Regions from separate parts of the Homo sapiens genome. Here all the other regions are linked to region 2. Evidence: fine-mapped expression QTL. A gene starts in region 2. Each other region holds a variant in brackets. All regions are shown on one strand. Distances are from middle to middle.

The links.
Region 1: its variant is fine-mapped to the expression of KPNA3 in fibroblasts (GTEx, PIP above 0.99).
Region 3: its variant is fine-mapped to the expression of KPNA3 in whole blood (TOPMed, PIP above 0.99). The same link has a PIP of 0.9 or more in blood mononuclear cells.
Region 4: its variant is fine-mapped to the expression of KPNA3 in whole blood (INTERVAL, PIP 0.91).

Annotation. Positions count from the first base shown.
Region 1 is chr13:49,857,492-49,860,176 of GRCh38, reverse strand. No RefSeq gene overlaps it. Among named protein-coding and RNA genes, the nearest start is that of KPNA3, 66 kb to the right of the region's middle. The variant A/G (reference allele first, on the strand shown) is at 1,513.
Region 2 is chr13:49,791,345-49,794,029 of GRCh38, reverse strand. It overlaps KPNA3 (karyopherin subunit alpha 3), which reads left to right and starts at 1,348. Exons shown (of 17, transcript NM_002267.4): 1 at 1,348-1,592. The coding sequence starts at 1,524. RefSeq lists enhancers at 1,053-1,182, 986-1,647, 1,648-2,309, 2,314-2,685 and silencers at 1,253-1,502, 1,623-2,192.
Region 3 is chr13:49,726,863-49,729,547 of GRCh38, reverse strand. All of the region lies in intron 6 of KPNA3 (karyopherin subunit alpha 3), which reads left to right. Among named protein-coding and RNA genes, the nearest start is that of EBPL, 37 kb to the right of the region's middle. The variant A/T (reference allele first, on the strand shown) is at 1,076.
Region 4 is chr13:49,759,348-49,762,032 of GRCh38, reverse strand. All of the region lies in intron 1 of KPNA3 (karyopherin subunit alpha 3), which reads left to right. Among named protein-coding and RNA genes, the nearest start is that of KPNA3, 32 kb to the left of the region's middle. RefSeq lists enhancers at 1-546, 547-1,267 and a silencer at 2,356-2,425. The variant G/A (reference allele first, on the strand shown) is at 1,575.

The sequences.
Region 1 (2,685 bases), 66 kb before region 2:
TTTTTTTTTGAGATGGTGTCTCCCTCTGTAGCCCAGGCTGGAGTGCAGTGGTGCAATCTTGGCTCACTGCAACCTCCGCCTCCCGGGTCCCAGTTCAAGCAATTATCCTGCCTCAGCCTCCCAAGTGGCTGGGATTACATGCACATGCCACCATCCCCAGCTAATTTTTGTATTTTTAGAGAGACAGGGTTTCACCATGTTGGCCAGGCTGGTCTTAAACTCCTGACCTTGTGATCTGCCCACCTGTGCCTCCCAAAGTGCTCGGATTAGAGGCATGGGCCACCGCGCCCCGACATTTTAGATTAATTTTTTCGTAGGGTCTGAGGTCAAACTCCTGGCTTCAAGCAATCAATCCTCTTGCTTCAGCCTCCTGACTCACTGGGATGGCATGGGCCACTGTGCCTGGCTCCCAGCCTCCTCTTTAATCAAGGAGCTTTGGCTCTGTGAATTGACTTAGATCTCAACACAAGAGGCCATGACTGTCCACTGCAGTGACTCATCAGGTTTTTAGCTACCAGACCTAGAATTTTTCCCTCTGTTACAGATCAAGCAATACAATGGTAGATTGCCCATCTATTTCATTCCTAAGAACACCATAACTTAACCACCATCAAATATGTCTGCAGGCCAAAGCATTCTGATTGCCCTTTACAGTGGATGCATTTACTTTGTCCTTGGAGATTCAGTGCCACCCCTACCTATGCCACTCTGAGATCCCATCATCCCATCATTGAAATTGGGGAGACCATGTCAATGGCATATTTTCCACCTACCCTATAGAAGAGAGCAACCACAGAGCTCTCCTTTGAAAGAGGTTGCAGGTGCTCCATTTATTAATGCATTTCTCAATGCTTTAGTGAGGGAGATGTCTTCTGGGTTTTCTCATGGGACATTGTTTGGAGGTAGGACTGAACAATGACATGATGAGAACAGTAAGGTAATGTTTTATACCATATTCTGGGCTCTGTTCATGATTACTTTTTTCTGATAATAAGGACTGTTTCAATATTTTAGACATTTTAGAACATGACAGAAGATTACAGAAAGATATTAGGGTATTTTATGATTTGAAGTCTCACAAGGGACAGAAACCAGGGAAGTCTCCAGGTTCCTCAGCTGCATTTATTTGTGTATCTTCTTTTGAGGATTCTGCCATTATTATGACAGATTTTCCGTTCTTAGTTTTGGGTCTCTCCCTTCCAATTCTGGCAGGAGAAAAGCCCAATTTCTTTTTCTCTTATTTTATCAACATTCTTGGAGCCTTTACTGATAAAGGCAAAATTCAGTACAAAGCATACTTTTAACTGGCCTATTTAACAAGTATTTTAAAGAGCAAAAATCTTTCCTATCAACTTCCACAAAGGTGTCCAAAGTCATCCTTTTAAATTGGAAAGAGTTCTTAGGGAATTACGCAATGGTATGTACAAACCTGAACAGGCTGTACTCATGAGGACAAATATGTGATTTATCTAAGCATAGTAAATACTTCAGAGTTTAGTTTTCAGGGTTGGA[A/G]TGTCTACTGTAAACAGTAGCAATGACTATCTCTATAGCAAAATTTCCAAGCATAAGAAGAAATCAAGTTTTTCAAGAGAACATTTGCTCAGTAATACCTTTGCTCTTTTATTTATAGGGTAAAAGAGGGAAGAAATATGAGAAACATGCTTATAATACTTTTTTCTTCCCATATCCTTTTCCTTACCATAAAAAAAAGTTCTGTGGACTGGAATTAAAGATCAATGATGTATCACTGAAGCCATGAAGTCCTGCAAGTTTACATCATGATGATTCAGTGCTCCTGGATTAGCAAACCTTCCTCTCTGTGCATAAGCATCCCTCAACAATCCCAGGCCCCCGTGTCAGTACTGCTTCTGAACAACTCGCTAGTAAGCCCTTGAAAGAATGCAAACCTCTTTAATGTAGTCAAATGAAACAGATTTGTGCTCTGTCAACTCAGTCTTGACTTTTGCCTCCAGATTGTGGATTACTTGAGATGCCTGAAATATATTGTTTTTAAAACTGAAAGGTAGCTCCATCATTTCAAAAGCAGATAGTAGAGATGTTTACCAAGAAAAACATAGCCAAGGCCGGGCGCGGTGGCTCACGCCTGTAATCCCAGCACTTTGGGGGGCCGAGGTGGGCAGATCACGAGGTCAGGAGATCGAGACCATCCTGGATAACACGGTGAAATCCCATTTCTACTAAAAATACAAAAAACTAGCCGGGCGTGTTGGCGGACGCCTGTAGTCCCAGCTACTCGGGAGGCTGAGGCAGGAGAATGGCGTGAACCCAGGAGGCGGAGCTTGCAGTGAGCCAAGATCGCGCCACTGCACTCCAGCCTGGGTGACAGAGCGAAACTCCGTCTCAAAAAAAAAAAAAAAAAAAAGAAGAAGAAAAACATAGCCAAAACATTACATTCCAGCCCATGGGCAGTGAAGATTAGATTTTCCTGTTATCTTCCACCTGTTTTTGTTGTTGCTGTGGCTTTTTGGCTTGTTTGTTTTCATCCCTGCTGTAATCCCTGATTAACTCTTATTTTTTCAGGTTGTTGTTTCATGTATTTTGGCCACCACTTCCTGCCAAAACTATCTAATATCTGTACATCTCTAGAGGGTTCTAGCAACTATGCTGTCCTTTTTTATAGGAACTGATTCTTTTTTCTTTTTCCCACCCATTGAGCTGATTCTA
Region 2 (2,685 bases):
TTGTTTTTGTTGTTGTTGTTTTTGTTGTTTTGTTTGAGACAGAGTCTCCCTCTGTCGCCAGGCTGGAGTGCAGTGGCGCCATCTCGGCTCGCTGCAACCTCCGCCTACCGGGTTCAAGCGATTCTCCTGCCTCAGCCTCCAGGCATGCGCCACCACGCCCAGCTAATTTTTGTATATTTAGTAAAGAAGGGGTTTCACCATGCGGGCCATGGTTGGCCAGACTGGTCTCGGTCTCTTGACCTTGTGATCTGCCCTCCTCGGCCTCCCAAAGTGCTGGGATTACAGGCGTGAGCCACCACACCCGGCCGAAAGCAGCTCTTTATCAGTGTAATCCATCCAAATTTCCCTCTTTCATTCTTTCGATGCCCCCAGAGGGAGTGGGAGTGCTACACAGGAGAGTCTGCGGACCAGGGCTGGGCTGCTGCCTGAAGGCTAAGATTCTGTGTGGTGGTAGAACAAGAAGTGTTGGGGGGCATGTAAATACAGGGACTGCCAGAGTGAAGGTTGCAGAACCGGGCTTGGAAGGATGATGAAGAAACTGGGCGACACTAAAGCGCCAGTTCAACAAGTATTGCGTATCTACGACGTGGTAGGCATTGTTTTGACACTAGAGATTCAGCAGTAATTCAACCAAAGTACCTGCTCTCATTGAGCTGAATTTCCGCGCGGGCACCTAGGTAACGCATATAAACACTCGTATCACATACATACACATGTACATGTCAGGTAGAAATGCTATTTATAAAACTGAAGCAGAGCATGGGAAGAGCGAATGAAGGTGGCTATTTGAGAAGACCCCCAAAAAAGCGAGACTGCAAAGCACTCGCGGTTGTTCCTTTTCTGATCTTCTAGCTACAGGCAGCGAGGTGCGCTCCCAGGAAGGCCCGCCCTCTTCCTCCTGATAGGGCGCAAGGTGCCAGGGACGCTCCCCCGCTCTTCCCCGCCCAGAGGCGGCCTTGTGGGGGCGGAGCTTTGTGCCCAGCAACATGAGCGCGGCGCGCAAAGAGCCGCGCGCGGAAGGGTCCCGGCATTCTCCTCGTTCTCACTAGGCGTGGAGAATTACTCCAGGCGGATCGTGGCATGATGGGAACTGTAGTTGACGACCGCCGCCCCGCGCCTGAGGGGCAGTAAAAGTCGCCAGGTCCGGCTCCATTTCTGGCACAAAACTTGCAGCACCGAGGGGTTGTGGAGAGCCCTTGCAGGGGAAGAGGGCAGGGTCATCCCGAGAACCAACGGGCACGTATAGCCCGGCGAACGCCCAAGCCGGTCACCGCCCCCGGTCACGTGTCGCCAGCCTCCGCGGCCGCGCGCCGCTCTCAGCACCGTTCCCGCCCCACCCGGCCCGGCAGTCGGCCCGCGCCTCCCCCGGCGCTACTGCCACCTCGCGCTCGGAGGCGTCACAGAACGTGCTCTTCTCTCCCCTCCCCCCTCCCGCTCTCCCCCTCCTCCCCCTCCCGCTCCAAGATTCGCCGCCGCCGCCGCCGCAGCCGCAGGAGTAGCCGCCGCCGGAGCCGCGCGCAGCCATGGCCGAGAACCCCAGCTTGGAGAACCACCGCATCAAGAGCTTCAAGAACAAGGGCCGCGATGTGGAAGTGAGTGTGCTTCCGCGGTCTGGGCCCGCCTGGCCGCGCCGGCCCGGCGACGCGGGGAGGGGCGGGGGGCCGGCGCCGGGCTGGTTCTCGTCGGCTTGTGGTCGGCCGGAGTTGGCCGCCGCCTCCCGTCACCGCGGCCCCGGGCTGGGCGGAGCGGGCGGCGAGACGCCGGCCGGGCTGCAGTCACCCCCCGGAGCTGCCGGCGCGGCGACCGGGAAATGCCGGCGTTTTCGGCCCCGTCACGCGGGCGCGGCCTGGTGTCGGCGAGGAGGGGATGTGGAGCTGAGGCGGGGTCCGCGGGCCAGGGCCGCCCGGATGAACGGGGATGCTGCCGCCCGGGCCCTCCGACCGCACAGCCGAGGGGGCGGCCGCTGCTTGCGCCCGCCACCGGTGCAACCTTCCGTCCGGTGCAGCCCCCTCTGCGCCTCCCGCGCGGCTCACATGGAGCCTCGGCTCTGCCGGTCCGGGCTCCTACCTTCTGCGAGCCGGGCCCAGGCGGGCGGTGGCGGCCCGCAGAGGGGGGTGGGGACCAGCCGGGTAACTGACTTGTTTGAGGGTGATCGATGGGGGAGGGTAGGATGCGCCAGGACCATTTTCTTATATTCCAGTGCTCGTCTTTGGACTAGTCGTGCCGAGCTGTTGCAGCTCATACTCCTGCAACTGCTGGCATTTGGAGCGAGCTGAAGGTGGACAATAGTTTGCCATCTATTGTGTTCAGGCTTCGGAAAAGAGGTTGCTCCGACCTCCGCTCATAGGACTTGTTTTCTTAGCCTTTCTTGGAGTGGGGTGTGCATAGGGTGATAATTTCTTTGACACGTTTTACTAAAATAAATTGGATACACAGGTTCATAATTCTCTTACATACCTCTTGCTCCAAGCTAGTAGAATTTCCAAGTGGTTGCAAAACTAAACATTCATCGCGGTCACTCAGTTAGTTGCTACTCAGCATGTTGCCATTGTCTCATTAAGGTGACATTAGCAGGTACTATTTGCAAACTCGGCTTATTGAGGCAGCGCTAGAGGTCTCTCTGCAGCTACTGAAAACAGTAAGTATAATGCACAAACTTCACTGGGACCGTGACCTTTGGATTTG
Region 3 (2,685 bases), 64 kb after region 2:
CTCTCAAAGTGCTGGGATTACAGGCGTGAGCCACCGCACTCGGCCATAAATGTCCATTTGTTATTGCACTCGTTTTTTCTATATCTTTTCTCATTTTTTTTTATTTTTCCACATGACATCTTGAAAGACTTTCTTTGGCTTTATAATTTTATTTTTTACATTTATCCATTTTCTCATTTAAGTCCCCCATTCCCAGTATTTTGCCAAACCACCTAACCAGCTTAATAACTTTCTCCTTCCAGTCTGAGGCAACATATACTGTCTTACTGTTTTTGATCTTACTGTTTTTTTTACTTCTTCCCTGCCTCTGATATACCATCTTATTTCCTGCCTTCTGCTAGAATTCATCATATACAGGGGAAATTTTAAAAGTTTGTGGAAAAGTGGAATCAAAAGACAATAAAATATATGAAAGATAATAAATATATAAACTTGATTTCTCAACATAAGCTCCATCAAGGTCAAGACACTTTTGTAAGTGATACTACCAGCCATTGTCTATCCCTAAAGAACTGAGGGTCCTGGGAATTTAACCATGTCAGCGCAGTCTTTTTCATGATATTAACTGAAGAAAACTAGATGCCCTTTACAGGTTGTTTTTTTAAGATTAGGAAACAAAAAGAAGTCACAAGATGGCCAAATCAGAACTGTAAGGTGGATACCTAATGATTTCCTATTGATTCTCTTGCAAAATTGCTCTTGTTTGATGAGCAGAATGAACAGAAACATTGTGGTGGAGAAAGACTCTCTGGTAAAGCTCTCTCAGGCTTTTTTCTGCTAAAGCTTTGGCTGACTTTCTCAAAACACTCTCATAATAAGCAGGTGTTATCATTCTTTGGCCCTCTAGAAGGTCAACAAGAATAATACCTTGAGCATCCCCAAAAACTTTTTAGTCATTACCTTTCCTCCTGACCAGTCCACTTTTGCTTCGATTGTACTTTGTCTTTAGGATCATACTGGGAAAGCCATGTTTCATCTCCTTTTACAATTCCTTGAAGAAATACTTCAGGATCTTGATCCCTCTGGTTTAAAATTTTCATTGGAAGCTCTGCTGTTGTCTACGGCTTATCTGGGC[A/T]CAATGGTTTTGACACCTATCAAGGGGAAAGTTTGCTCAACTTTAATTTTTCAGTCATAATTTTGTAAGCTGAACCAATCAAGATGTCTGGTATTGGTTATTGTTTCTGCTGTTAATCAGCAATCATCTTCTGTTAGGGCACGACCAAGATTAATCTTTTCCTCAGATATTGTTGTTGATTGTTTGCCGCTGTGGATTTCATCTTCAACATCGACTTGTCCTTTTTTTTTTTTTTTTTGAGACAGAGTCTCGCTCTGTCGCCCAGGCTGGAGTGCAGTGGCACGATATCAGCTCACTGCAAGCTCCGCCTCCTGGGTTCACACCATTCTCCTGCCTCAGCCTCCCGAGTAGCTGGGTCTACAGGTGCCTGCCACCACGCCCGGCTGACTTTTTGTATTTTTAATAGAGATGGGGTTTCACCGTGTTAGCCAGGATGGTCTCGATCTCCTTACCTCGTGATCCGCCTGCCTCAGCCTCCTAAAGTGCTGGGATTACAGGCGTGAGCCACCATGCCCGGCCGACTTGTCCCTTCTTAAAAGGAGTTAACCATTTGTAAACCGCTGATTTCTTTGGGGGCATTTTCCCCGTAAAGTTTTAAGTACATCAGTGAGTTCACCATTATTTCACCCAAGCTTCACCATAAATTTGATGTTTGTTTTTGCTTTAATTTTAGCAGGATTCATGTTGCTCTTCTAGGGGCTCTTTTCAGATTGATGACTTACCCCTTACCCCTCTTAGTGCCTCAAACTAGATCATGTTCAGACGTGTATAGAAAGTTAGTATGAGTTTATTTTGGTGCAAAAAAATTGAAATCCATGGAGTTTTTTTCATAATACACATTTTTAATGAGTTTTTTAAAGTCCCCTCATAGTTCTTCTCTGCTACTTCATTTTCTCATATGTTCCATCTTTTTAACCTGTATATCACTATTTGCTATATCTCTGACATCTATTCTCCTTAAAACCTTTTGTTCTTGGATCTCTTCAACCTTTTTTCTCTTTTTTCTTTCTTTTTTTTTTTTTTTTGAGATGGAATCTCTCTCTGTCGCCCAGGCTGGAGTGCAGTGGTGCAATCTCAGCTCACCACAACCTCCGCCTCCTGGGTTCAAGGGATTCTCCTGCCTCAGCCTCCCGAGCAGCTGGGATTATAGGCACGCACCATCATGTCCAGCTAATTTTTGTATTTTTAGTAGAGAGGGGGTTTTGCCATGTTGGCCAGGCTGGTTTCAAACTCCCGACCTCAGGTGATCCATCTGCCTTGGCCTCCCAAAGTGCTGGGGTTACAGGTGTGAACCACCTTGCCCGGACTTCTTTAACCTTTTGATACTAACAACCTTGCTTGCTCTCTTCCCTGTTTATAGGCTTTTCTTCAAACTCCCTAACCTTTGTCTAATCTTAATTTTTGCTGACTAAATCCCCCCAATCCTTGGTATTCCACTTAAGGGAATTTGTACTCTTTCAGCTATCCTAACTTAATATCTATCATTTCCTTTTAACAGGTCTTTCCTTTATGTCTTTTTTGTGACAGGGTTTCACTCTGTCACCCAGGCTGGAGTGCAGTGACACAATCACAGCTCATTGAATCCTCAAACTCCTAGGCTCAAGCAATCC
Region 4 (2,685 bases), 32 kb after region 2:
GGGCTCCTCACTTCACAGACGGGGCGGCTGCTGGGCGGAGGGGCTCCTCACTTCTCAGATGGGGCGGCTGCCGGGTGGAGGGGCTCCTCACTTCTCAGACGGGGTGGCTGGGCAGAGACGCTCCTCACCTCACAGACGGAGTCGTGGCTGGGCAGAGGCGCTCCTCACATCCCAGACGGGGCGTCTGGGCAGAGGCGCTCCCCACATCTCAGACGATGGGCGGCCGGGCAGAGATGCTCCTCGCTTCCTAGACGGGATGGCAGCCGGGAAGAGGCGCTCCTCACTTCCCAGACTGGGCAGCCGGGCAGAGGGGCTCCTCACATCCCAGACGATGGGCGGCCAGGCAGAGACGCTCCTCACTTCCCAGACGGGGTGGCGGCTGGGCAGAGGCTGCAATCTCGGCACTTTGGGAGGCCAAGGCAGGCGGCTGGGAGGTGGAGGTTGTAGCTAGCCGAGATCATGCCACTGCACTCCAGCCTGGGCAACATTGAGCACTGAGTGAACGAGACTCCGTCTGCAATCCTGGCACCTCGGGAGGCCGAGGCTGGCAGATCACTCGCGGTTAGGAGCTGGAGACCAGCCCGGCCAACACAGCGAAACCCCGTCTCCACCAAAAAAATACGAAAACCAGTCAGGCGTGGCGGTGTGCGCCTGCAATCGCAGGCACTCGGCAGGCTGAGGCGGGAGAATCAGGCAGGGAGGTTGCAGTGAGCCGAGATGGCAGCAGTACAGTCCAGCTTCGGCTCGCCATTAGAGGGAGACCGTGGGGAGAGGGAGAGGGAGACTGTGGGGAGAGGGAGAGGGAGACCGTGGGGAGAGGGAGAGGGAGAGGGACCCTCTTCTCTACTACTTATATGACATCAGCACTGCATTAAAAAATATTTTTTTCTGTTAATAGCCAGGATCCAGTTGTTGTAGAACAGGTGACCTCCCAAAGTATGACGTCTTTCAGAAGTAACATATACTGTTTTTGTCCTACTTTTTTGTTATTAAGAATATGTATGTTATTTAAAATATAGGAATTCTTTTTAAAAACACGATACCATTATCACACTTGCCAACGTGATCATGGGGGGAAAGGGCAGCAGTGCTGGTGCAAGTCCTGGAATCCGAAGACCATAGAATCTGGAGTTCTGACAGCAAGAATTACTCTTGCCTCCTCTTTTTGTTCCATCTGGGCCCCAGCTTATTGAATGCTGCCCACCCACATTGAGAGTGAAACTTCCCCTATCAGTCTACTAACTCAAATGCCAGTCTCTTCAGGAAATACCCTCACAGGCACTGGGACAGCCCAGTCATTCTAATCAAATGCCTGACCGCCCGGGTTTTCCTTTCAGCAGAAGAGGGACGAGCTCAGTGCTGTCTGAACCACTGAGGATAATTAATGCTTTCACCAGCTATCTGGGTATCCCTTAATCCAGTCAGGTTGACACCTGGAATCAACTATTACAAGGTCCACACATTGCGATTGATTGATTGATGTGAACTCAAAGTCTCCTTTTTAATTTATGGTCTCTTAATCTCACCATCTTTGTCTTTTTTATGCACTTTATTGTTGGAGAAACTGGGTTCAT[G/A]GAGGTTCTCATAATCTGAATTTTGCTTTTTTTTTTTTTTTTTTGAGATGGGATCTCACTCTGTCACCCAGGCTGGAGTGCAGTGGTGTGATCTTGGCTCACTGCAACCTCTGCCTCCTGGGCTCAAGCAGTCCTCCCACCTCAGTCTCCTGGGTAGTTGGAATCACAGGCATGTACCACCATTCCTGGCTGAGTTGTTTTTTGTATTTTTGGTAGAGATGGGATTTCATCATGTTGCCCAGGCTGGTCTTGAACTCCTGAGCTCAAGCAGTCTTCTTGGATTGCTGGGTTTACAGGCATGAGCCACCGTGCCCGGCTGGATTTTACATCTTATCATGTCACTTGACATGTGTATTGGCCCTCTGTATTTCCTGTAAATTCAAAGTTGAAGCTGGAGGCTTTATCAGATTCAGATGATTTGGGGGAATTGGGAACATGACTGCATCATATGTGATGGTTTTCTCTTCCATCAGAAAGGCACGTAGTGTCTGGCTGTCTCTTTCTGTTATGTTGACATCACCACTGAGGAACATTGTCTAAGTCTGTTATTTACTAGGATTTGTAAAATGGTGATAATCTATCACTCCTTCTTTAAGCTAGACCAGGGATCCCCAACCCTGGACCACTACCAGTCCGTGGCCCATTAGGAACTGGGCTGCACAGTAGGAGGTAGGCAGCAGGCAAGCAAGTGAAGCTTCATCTGTATTTACAGCTGCTCCTCATTGCTTGTATTACCACCCGAGCTCCACTTCCTGTCAGATCAGCAGCTGCATTTGATTCTCAAAGGAGCACAAACCCTGCTGTGAACTGTGCATGCGAGTGATCTAGGTGCATGTTCCTTATGAGAATCTAATGCCTGATGATCTGTCACCATCTCCCATCATCCCCAGATGGGACCTCTAGTTGCAGGAAAACAAGCTCAGGCCTCCCATTGATTCTACATTATGGTGAGTTGTGTAATTATTTCATATTACAATATAATAATAATGGAAATAAAGTGCACAATAAATGTCATGCACTTGAATCATCCTGAAACCACTCCTTCTACTTCCTAGTCCATGGAAAAATTGTCTTCTGTGAAACTAGTCCCTGGTGCCAAAAAGTTTGGGAA